2 linked regions of the Homo sapiens genome follow. The protein of the gene in region 1 interacts with the protein of each later gene in a biochemical or structural test. Each region holds a gene or a part of one and is shown on either strand. Other genes may lie near its edges.

The links.
Region 2: the proteins of RWDD1 (region 1) and DRG2 form a complex in vitro, tested with the Homo sapiens proteins (one study listed by BioGRID).

What each region holds. Positions count from the first base shown.
Region 1 is NC_000006.12:116,595,504-116,598,473, forward strand, and holds the end of RWDD1 (RWD domain-containing protein 1), read left to right. Parts: 3' UTR 1-2,172; downstream 2,173-2,970. UniProt on the Homo sapiens protein: Protects DRG2 from proteolytic degradation.
Region 2 is NC_000017.11:18,083,197-18,091,218, forward strand, and holds the start of DRG2 (developmentally-regulated GTP-binding protein 2), read left to right. Parts: upstream 1-4,751; 5' UTR 4,752-4,827; coding exon 4,828-4,891; intron 4,892-8,022. UniProt on the Homo sapiens protein: Catalyzes the conversion of GTP to GDP through hydrolysis of the gamma-phosphate bond in GTP. When hydroxylated at C-3 of 'Lys-21' by JMJD7, may bind to RNA and play a role in translation.

The sequences.
Region 1 (2,970 bases):
GAAGCAATAATTGTTCCATCTTGGATTATCGGTTTTGCTCTTTGATTTGGTAAAGTTTTTGTTTTTCTACTCGTGCCAGTTGTATTAAAATGTCACTAGGTTAAAAACAAACACAGATATGTTTATTCATTACTGTATCCCTGTAATAATGCCTGGCATGCAGTAGGTCCCTAATATTTGTTGAATGAATGAATTATAGAATAGAGTGCAAAATTAATTCTAATGTATTTTAAAGTAAAGCATGAGAGTTCAAAGAAATGTTGTATTTGCCATCTACAACTTGGAATAATGTTCCTTGATCCTGCTTTACTTCATGCACTTTTGCCAGCAGAGGTGGATGCCTTAGGGAAAAAGTTGGATAAATGCTGATCTAAGGCAACACGTCTAAATGGTTATGTGAACATTTCCCAGTTGGGGTAAAACTAAGAGGAGTGATAATAACATCTCATCAATTTAAAGGACAAGTTCACTGATCGTACTGTCATACTCCAGAGATACATGTGCCAAGAAGCAAAGAGATGCACTCTTGTATTCCAGAAAGAAGATGATTTGTAAGTGTTCAGTATTTGTGTGGCAGCCCTTTTAGGTGTAATGAAGTGTAACAGAAAAGTAAGTGAACTACTTCACATAGCTCTTAATGTTTGTCTTTCAGAGGACATACGAGTCAGGCAGCAAAAGTTGGAGCCATTGTATGATTGTGTGTCAAAATGAGAGTCACACACTTCAAGAACTGTAGGAACTAATTTTAGAAAAAGACTCTTCAGAACAGATGACACATGAAATGTGAGTTTATGTAAACATGTAAATTTGAGTAGCATTAGTTTGTTTTCTGTTTAGGAACTGTATCAGGGTGACAAAGATGAAAGAATGCTGCCAGAAAAGTATATTGTTAAATTTTCAGGCCTCCATTGGTGAAGTTTCAAGTAACCTTTCACTTAAGTTACTTGTGTCAGAGGATGGATGATGGGGTCATTTAAATTGTTGGACAAAGCCATGAAAGGACTTTTAAAATTTTGTCATAAAAATAGCCAATGATGTTTTTAATTTTACATCTAAAACTAATTTGCATTATCCTGTGTTAGTGACTGAATCTCAACTCAGTCCTCATTTTTTAGTTCAACTTTTGACAACCTTATATTCATTGACACCATGGACAGCACAGTAAAAAAATACACAAATTTCTTTTGCAGTTATTGATTTGGAATGATCACTTTAAAAGAGCCATCAAATACGCCTACATATTGAGCCACTCTTTATCATTAAGGTGAAAAGTTCATTCAATTAAGGTATTTGAGTGCTACTATGCGCCAGCCTTTCTTTGTGATAATGTTAATTTTTTTTTTCCTCCCCTCCATGAAGGGAAGAAAAAAAAATTAATTCGGCCATGAATTTTAATATTCTGGCCAGCACCTTATCCATTTGTAGCCACGCCAACAAATTTATTCTGTGATATACCAAACTTACAAAGTCACTCTGCGATTTCAGTAAGGCCCATTCCCAACATGAGTGCTGCTGTCCACGGTACTGAACCATCAATGCTAAATGGTATTTAGTTGTGGATCTTCATCCTGTCATGCAGCTAAATATTCCAGGAATACTGAACCAAGTGAGGAGAAAGATAGCAGTGGGTTGCTGCAAAGGAGGTGAGGGGAGGGGAGAGATAGCAAGTGAGAAAAAGAGAGACTAGTGGTGATGTTTTTAAGTAATTGAAGTAAAAAAGAGAGAGAAAGAGAGAGAGAAGAGGTTCTACTCAGTCCACCAAAGCTTTTTAATTTCCTTACATAATTAACATGATGAATTTTTAAATAATTGTTATATTTAGTTTTGTTCTTCCACCTTTTGGCTATTTCTACTACATATTTACTTATCATAAAAAATACTTCCTAGACCTTCCTCTTATAGCTATTGCCTATCTCTGCCTTTGCAGCTGTTCTCCTTTAAAGAGTAGTCTCCATTAGTTTTCTTGACTTCTTCATCTCCCTGCATAAAGATGAAGGGTATTTAGCTCTGAAAATCCTTTACTGTTGAATATTTAGATTGTTTTCAATTTTTACATAATGAACAATGCATCATGGGATTATTGGCTGCAAATAAATTGGAAACATAAAAGGTGTTTTAAGTTTAAATTTTTTTAAAAAAACAGGTAAAAATAAAATATTTGCCAAAGACTAAGGGTTGCAAAGCTACCTCATGATACACTCTTATACCAATACTAAAATAAACTTCACAACAACAAAATTAGTGATTGGGAAATTACAGTTTTGATGAACTTGGCATTTCAATCAAAGTCATATTTGCCACCGTTCTCTCAGTAGCTTTAGGCCAATTTCCAAATTGCTTTCGACAAATTAGTTTTATTTGTTTATATTATATTATATATATATAATATACATATATTTAAATTATATTTATAATTCTTTCAGTCAGATTTCCTGGAGAACAATAGTTGTTAGGTGCCTACCAGAAAATAGGACTAGAAAGTCATGTTGGAGCCATATTGTGGAAGTCCAAGGAAGTCGGATGGGAGCAAAGGTCATTTCAATTATATATCAAGCTTATATTCTATGGAAACTAACCCCTTCCTAGCACATATATTATTGAAAAATTATTCACCTGCTATTTTATCAATGTCATTTATAAATTAAAATTTTTCTTATTATAACTATACCTTAAAAACACCAATAAAATTGCCAGATCACTGATATTCCTGCTTTTATTATTATAAGATAATATATCAGTTCTTCAAATACACCTTTGAGTAGAAGGATGGAACTGAAAATTGATTTGGGTTTATTTAAAAGAGAAACCTTTCAACAATCCTAAATCTCAGATTTTTAATAGCATTTTTGTTGTTTGAGTATGGCCAGTTTCCTATTTATTTCCTATTTCTTATTGTTTGACAGTGCCCATTTATGTAGGAAAATCAAAATGGAAAAGTACATTAGAAAACGTATAAATCCTTCAACTTAA
Region 2 (8,022 bases), on another chromosome or scaffold:
TTTTTTTTTTGAGACAGAGCCTCTCTCTGTTGCCCAGGCTGGAGTGCAGTGGCGCAATCTCGGCTCACTGCAACCCCTGCCTCCCAGTTTCAAGCGATTCTCCTGTCTCAGCCTCTGGAGTAGCTGGGATTACAGGCATGAGCCACCATGCCTGGCTAATTTTTGTATTTTTAGTAGAGACGGGGTTTCTCCATGTTGGCCAGGCTGGTCTTGAACTCCTGATCTCAGGTGATCCACCCGCCTCAGCCTCCCAAAGTGCTGAGATTACAGGCGTGAGCCACCGTCCCCAGCCCCATATATACATACTTTGAACTAGTTGAGTAAGGTACAGATGTCACACCTACTATGGACTGAATGTTTGTGATGTGATGGTATTTGGAGTTGGGGCCTATGGGGGTAATTAGAGTTGGATGAGTTCATGGGGTAAGATACTGCTTATGATGGACATGGTGCCCTTGTAAGAAGGGACACCAGAGAGCTTGTCTCTCTGAGAGCATGCACTAAGGAAAGGGCATTTGAGGACACAGTGGCAAAGTAGCCCTCTGCAAAACAGGAAGAGAGCCCTCACCGGAGTGCAACTATGTTGGCATCCTGATCTCAGACTTCCAGCATCCAGAATGTGAGAAAATAAATGTCTGTTGTTTATGCCACTAAGTCCATGGTATGTCACACAGGCTGGAGTGCAGTGGCTCGATCTCGGCTCACTGCAAGCTCCGCTTCCCAGGTTCACACCATTCTCCTGCCTCAACCTCCTGAGTAGCTGGGACTACAGGCGCCTGCCACCACGCCTGGCTATTTTTTTCTTTTTTTGTATTTTTTAGTAGAGACAGGGTTTCACCGTGTTAGCCAGGATGGTGTCGATCTCCTGACCTCGTGATCTGCCCGCCTCAGCCTCCCAAAGTGCTGGGATTAAAGGCGTGAGCCACCGCGCCTGGCCCAAGTCCATGGTATTCTATGGCAGCCTGAGCCGACTAAGACAACCCCTAAATACTGCATGTACATCTGCTAAGAATAAAGACATTCGCTTACATCATCACACCAAGAAAATTGGTAAGCTCCAGAATATTCAATATCCAATTCGTAGTTAGATTTCTTCCAAATTGTCCTCAGAATGTTTTCTATTTATTCAAAATTTTTGTTTATTTATTTAATTTATTTTAGAGACAGCATCTCACTCTATGGCCCAGGCTGGTGTGCAGTGGTGTGATTATGGCTCACTGCAGCCTTTACCTTCTGGGCTCACGTGATCCTCTTGCCTCAGCCTTCTCAGTAATCAGGACTACAGGTACACACCACCACACCCAGCTTGGAATGTCTTTTTTTTTTTTTTTTTTTGAGATGGAGTTTCTCTCTTATTGCACAGGCTGGAATGCAGTGGCACAATCTTGGCTCATTGCAACCTCTGCCTCCCGGGTTCAAGCGATTCTCCTGCCTCAGCCCCCCAAGTAGCTGGGACTACAGGCGTGCGCCACCACGCCCAGCTAATTTTTTGTATTTTTGGTAGAGATGGGGTTTCACCGTGTTAGCCAGGATGGTCTCGATCTCCTGACCTCGTGATCCACCCGCCTTGGCCTCCCAAAGTGCTGGGATTACAGGCGTGAGCCACTGCACCCGGCCTCTAATTTTGTACTTTTAATAGAGATGGGGTTTCGCCATATTGGCCAGGCTGGTCTTGAACTCCTGACCTCAGGTGATCCACCCACCTGGGCCTCCCAAAATGATAGGATTACAGGTGTGAGCCTCTGCGCCTGGCCCAGAATGTCTTTTTATAGGTGCTTTTAAATTTTTCAACCAGAATTAACTGGCCATGGTAGCATGTGCCTGTAGTCCTAGCTACTTGGGAGGTTGAGGCTGGAGGATCACTTGAGCCCAGGAGTTCAAGGCTGCAGTCAGCCATGATCATAACACTACACTCCAGCCTGGGTGATAGAGAGACACCCCATCTCTAAAAAAAGAAAAATAGCCTGTAATCCCAGCACTTTGGGAGGCCGAGGCGGGCGGATCACGAGGTCAGGAGATTGAGACCATCCTGGCTAACATGGTGAAACCCCATCTCTACTAAAAATACAAAAAATTAGCCGGGCATGGTGGCAGGCGCCTGTAGTCCCAGCAACTCAGGAGGCTGAGGCAGGAGAATCGCTCGAACCCGGGAGGCGGAGGTTTGCAGTGAGCCGAGATTGTGCCACTGCACTCCAGCCTGGGCGACGGAGTGAGACTGCGTCTCAAAAAAAGAAAAAAAGATAGCCAGGCGCGGTGGCTCACGCCTGTAATCCCAGCACTTTGGGAGGCCAAGGCGGACGGATCACGAGGTCAGGAGATCGACACCATCCTGGCTAGCACGGTGAAACCCCGTCTCTACTAAAAATACAAAAAATTAGCCGGGTGTGGTGGCGGGCGCCTGTAGTCCCAGCTACTCGGGAGGCTGAGGCAGGAGAATGGCGTGAACCCGGGAGATGGAGCTTGCAGTGAGCCAAGATCGCGCCACTGCACTCCAGCCTGGGCAACAGAGAGAGACTCCGTCTCAAAAAAAAAAAAAAAGAAAAAAATATATAAATTTAAATAAAATAAAAATTTCAACCAGAATCTGGACAAGTTCCACACACGTAACATTTTTTCATTTAGAACAATCTCCCTACTTACCCCCTGGCCACTGTCATTGACAATTTTGATGAACCAAGGCCAATTGCCTTATAAAATGTTCCACTTTCTACATTTATCTGATGTTTCCTCATGCCTAAACTCAGTTACAGTATTTTTGGCAAGAATTCTACATAAGAGATGCTGTCAGCCAGATGAGGTGGCTCATGCCTGTAATCCTAGCACCTTGGGAGGCCGAGGTGGGAGGACTGCTTGAGACCAGGAGTTCAGGAGCAGCCTGGGCAACATAGTGAAACCCCATCTCTACAAAAAAAAATTTTTTTTAATTAGCCAGGCATGATGGTTCGGGCCTATAGTCACAATTACTCAGGAGGCTGAGGTGGGAGGATCACTTGAGCCTGGAAGGTTGAGGTTGCAGTGAGCTGTAGTCACGCCACTGCACTCTAGCCTAGGCAATAGAGGGAGAGCCTGTCTAAGAAAAAATGTCACGAGATGCTGTCTACTTTACACTGCTTCGTATCAGGAGGCATCTGATGGTAGGTGATCCTGAGTTGGAGTACTGCGTTAAGGTGGTATGGGGGGCAGGTGCAGTGGCTCATGCCTGTAATCTCAGAACTCTGGGAGGCCAAGGCTGGCAGATTCCTTGAGCTCAGAAGTTCAAGACCAGACTGGGCAACAATGGTGAAACTCCATCTCTACAACATAATACAAAAATCAGCCAGGCGCGGTGGCTGATTTTCTCCCAGACTGAGGAGGGAGGATCACCTGAGCCTGGGAGGTCGAGGCTGCAGTGAGCTGTGATCACGCCACTGCACACCAGCCTGGGTGATCAAGTGAGACCCTGTCTCAAAAAAAAAAAAAAAAAAAAAAAGGTGGTATGGGGATCCACTTTTTTTTTCTTGAGACAGGTTCTCGCTCTGTTGCCCATGCTGGAGTGCAGTGGCAGCATCTTGGGGATCCATTTTGAACCTCTTCAAGCTTGTCCCACCTGAGGTCTGCAGCCACATGTGGCCCAGGACCACTTTGAATGTGGCCAAACACAAATTCGTAAACTTTCTTAAAACATTATGAAATTTAGGCAGGGCACAGCGGCTCACGCCTGTAATCCCAGCACTTTGTGAGGCTGAGGCAGGCAGATCACTTGAGGTCAGGAGTTCGTGACCAGCCTGGCCAACATGGTGAAACCTCGTCTCTACTAAAAATACAAAAATTAGCCGAGTGTGGTGGCACGCGCCTGTAATCCCAACTACTTGGGAGGCTGAGGCAGGAGAATCACTTGAACCCAGGAGTCGGAGGTTGCGGTGAGCCAAGATCACACCACTGAACTACAGCCTGGATGACAAAGTGAGACTCCGTCTCAAAAAAACAAAACTAAAACAAAGAAAAAAAAACTGAGGTTTTTTGTTTGTTTGTTTTTTGAGATGGAGTTTCGCTCTTGTTGCCCAGGCTGGAGTGCAATGGCGCGCAATCTCCACTCACCGCAACCTCCGCCTCCCGGGTTCAAGCAATTCTCCTGCCTCAGCCTTCCCAGTAGCTGGGATTATAGGCGCGCGCCACCACGCCCGGCTAATTTTGTATTTTTAGTAGACATGGGTTTCTCCATGTTGGTCAGGCTGGTCTCGAACTCCCAACCTCAGGTGATCCGCCCGTCTCGGCCTTCCAAAGTGCTGGGATTACAGGCGTGAGCCACCGCGCCCGGCCAAAACATTGAGGGTTTTTTTGGCGATTTTTTTTTAAGCTCATCAGCTATCGTTAGTGTTGGTGTATTTTACGTGTGGCCCAAGACAATTCTTCCAATGTGGCCCAGAGAAGCCAAAAGATTGGACACCTCCATTTATAGTATAAAATGAAAGCCACTAGGCTTTCGGCTCAGCCCCTTTTCCTTACACTGCCAGTCAGCTGCGCTCAGGGACCCGCAGTTCAGAGTTCAACACGGGCAGATTCCCTCTCTTCCTTGCTTGCTCCTGCCAGCCGCAGCCGTGGGCCAGTACAGCATGGCCCGGCCCCGCCCCGGCTCTTTCCAGAGGTCCGCAGCCTGGCCGGCCCAGCGGGCGGAACCGATAGTGTCTGGCACTTGGCTCGCCCGGACTCTGAATCCTGGAGCACCAGGCGCCCACGAGAACGCTGTTCTCTTTGGCTTCCGGGCGCACGCTACTCTGTCGCCGCCGTCAGACCGGAATTGCCGGTGCCGCCGCCACCGCTGTCTGTGCGCCCACCTCTGCTGCTACCATGGGGATCTTAGAGAAGATCTCGGAGATCGAGAAGGAGATCGCTCGGACACAGAAGAACAAGGGTGAGGGCCGGCCGGGCGGGGCCTTCCTTTCTGCCTGCCTCAGTTTTCCTGTCTGTAAAATGGGGGAACAACTCCAGCAGTAATGCTGGGGCAAGATCCGAGGCCGCGGAGAAGTTGCCAGACAAGTGCCGAGGCCGCCCTGCGCGCCCAAGGCAGGGCCAGGCGGGAGCGGGTCTCACGCCCAGGTCTGACTGCAAACGTACCCCAAGAGATCTGGTCAGTCCCAGACCGTGTGCCCGAGTAGAGTAGTCCCAGCTCACAGAGCAAGCATCTGACCCAGAGAGAGGCGGAGCTGGGGTTCAAACCTCAGTCTCCTGATGGCTGGGCCTGGGGCCTGGGTCTACTCTGTTGTTTTGGGAAGTGCAAGAGGAGACCTCTCAGGAACAGCCTCACCCAGCAGCTGAGAGCCCATTGGAGCAAGGGAATCAGGACTCTGGAGTCTGGAAGGCCTGGGTTTGAGCCCCAGGTCCACCACGTACCTTCTGTAAAACATTGGAAAGTCACTTCATTTCTTGGAGTCTCAGTGTCCTCATCTGTAAATGGGGTAATACTCCCCTGCTCCATCTTAGTACACAGCTGAGTTAAATTAGATGGCCTTTACAAAGCACTGGGCACATGGTGAGCACTCAGTATTTAAAGTAAACACCCCAACATAGATAATACATAATGAAGCCTCAAATCTGGACTTTAGAATGTAAGGGCTGGAGGAGCTCACAGAAGAGAGGTGAGGAGAGAACGATGACACCAGGACAAAGTGGGACTTGAGCTGGTTGTTGGAAGGGTATCCCAGGTGGGGGCCACTGCTGAGACAAAGACATGGGAGTGAGCATGGTATGTTCATGGGACAGTGAGAACAATCTAGATCAGAAGGGGGTTATGGAAGAGTAATGGGAGATGCAATTGGCCAGGCTAGTGGCTAGCCATTCAGGCTTGTGGGAGCAGGAAGCAAGCAACACTAGATAGCTGGTCCCAGTGTCTGCCCTCCCTTGGTTCCATTTAGGTTTGAAGGCCAAGGAGTTGAGGGCCCTCTATGACTCATTCCTTCTGTAAATCTTTTTTGTTTGTTTGTTTGAGACAGTCTTGTTCTGTCACCCAGGCTAGAGTGCAGTGGTGCCATCTGGGCTCACTGCAACCTCTGCCTCCCAGGTTCAAGCGATTCTCCTGCCTCAGCCTCCAAATAGCTGGGATTACAGGCACGTGCCACCACACCCGGCTAATTTTTGTATTTTTTTAGTAGAGAGGGGGTTTTGCCATGTCGTCCAGGCTGGTCTCAAACTCCTGACCTCAGGTGATCCACCCGCCTCGGCCTCCCAAAGTGCTGGGATTACAGGCATGAGCCACCGTGCCTGGCCGATCTTTCCTGAGCCTTTACTATGTGCTAGGCACTGTGGTTAAAGCAGTGAACACAGCAGGCATATCCCAGCCCTTGGATCTGATCTTCTAGTTGACGGTCTGAAAACTAGAAATCAAATAAATAAGATAATGTCAGCCAGCAATATGTGCTATGAAGACAAACCAGGGTGATACAGCAGAATATTGGGGGTGGGGAGGGACTGGGGATTGGGTCTGCTTAGGTGGAGTGATAGAGAAGACCACCATGAGGATGGGGCATTTGAACTAAGACCTGATTGAAAAGAAGGAACCGGTCACGCAAACATCTGGGGGAAGAGGGTTCCTGGCAGAAAGAGCAGCTAGTGCAAAGGCCCTGAGGCAGGAACAAACTTGGCTGTTTACAGGTCAACAGGACTGGGGCTGGGGTGCAGTGATGGGACAGGAGGGGGTTGATCATGCAGAGCCATAGGTCATGGGAAAGACTCTGGGTTGTGTTCTAAGGCAGTGGGAGCTGGTGCAGGGTGTTAAGCAGGGGAGGGGCTATTCTGACTTCTGTCTTGAAAGTTCCCTCTGGCTGCTGTAATATTCCATATTACCCATAAGACCCAAGGAAAGTCACAGGGAGGCTAGAGATGCTGCCACTTTGGCAGTAGTAGACAAAGGAGATATAAAGGTGATTAAGACCTAGTCCCTCCCTTCAGAGATGCTCAGAATTTTAGGAGCTGGGATGACAGGAAGGGCCATGTGTACCTGACTGACACTGAATCCTTTTTTTTTTTTTTTTTTTTTTTTGAGACAGTCTTGCTCTGTTGCCCAGGCTGGAGTGCTGGAGTGCAGTGGTGTGATCATAGCTCACTGTAACTTCAAACTCCTGCATTCGAGCAATCCTTCCACCTCCACCTCTTGAGTAGCTGGGACTACAGGTGTGCACCACCACACCGGGCTAATTTATATATATATATATATATATATATATATATATATATATTTTTTTTTTTTTTTTTTTTTTTTTTTGAGATGGAGTTTCACTCTTGTTGCCCAGGCTGGAGTGCAATGGTGCAATCTCGGCTCACCGCAACCTCCGCCTCCCAGGTTCAAGGGATTCTCCTGCCTCAGTCTCCCAGGTGTGTGCCACAACGCCCAGCTAATTTTGTGTCTTTAGTAGAGACAAGGTTTCTCCATGTTGGTCAGGCTGGTTTCGGACTCCGGACCTCAGTTGATCCGCCCACCTCGGCTTCCCAAAGTGCTGGGATTACAGGCGTGAGCCACCCCACCCGGCCAATTTTTATGTTTTTTGTAGAGGCACGGTCTCACTATGTTGCCCAGGGTAGTCTTGAACTCCCAGCCTCAAGCAGTCCTCCCTTCTCAGCTTCCCCAAAGTGTTGGGATTACAGGTGTGAGCCACCCCACCCGGCCAATTTTTATGTTTTTTGTAGAGGCACGGTCTCACTATGTTGCCCAGGGTAGTCTTGAACTCCCAGCCTCAAGCAGTCCTCCCTTCTCAGCTTCCCCAAAGTGCTGGGATTACAGGCATGAGCCACCATGCCCAGCTGCAGAACCCATTCTTGACCATTTCTTACTGCTATCAATTCACTGATTCACTTGGTAAAATATTTCCTGTGTGCCTGGGCCCTGTGCTGGAGGCTGGGGATCCAGTCCCATTTCCTGACCTATCGGAGTCAGGGAAGTAAAGAAATAAGATCATTTTCAGAGTCGAGAAGACAGTAAACCTGCTCATGAGGCAGGAAGCAGTCTGGGGAAGGGCGGAATTTACTGTAGATTATAGCCAACTTTTATTG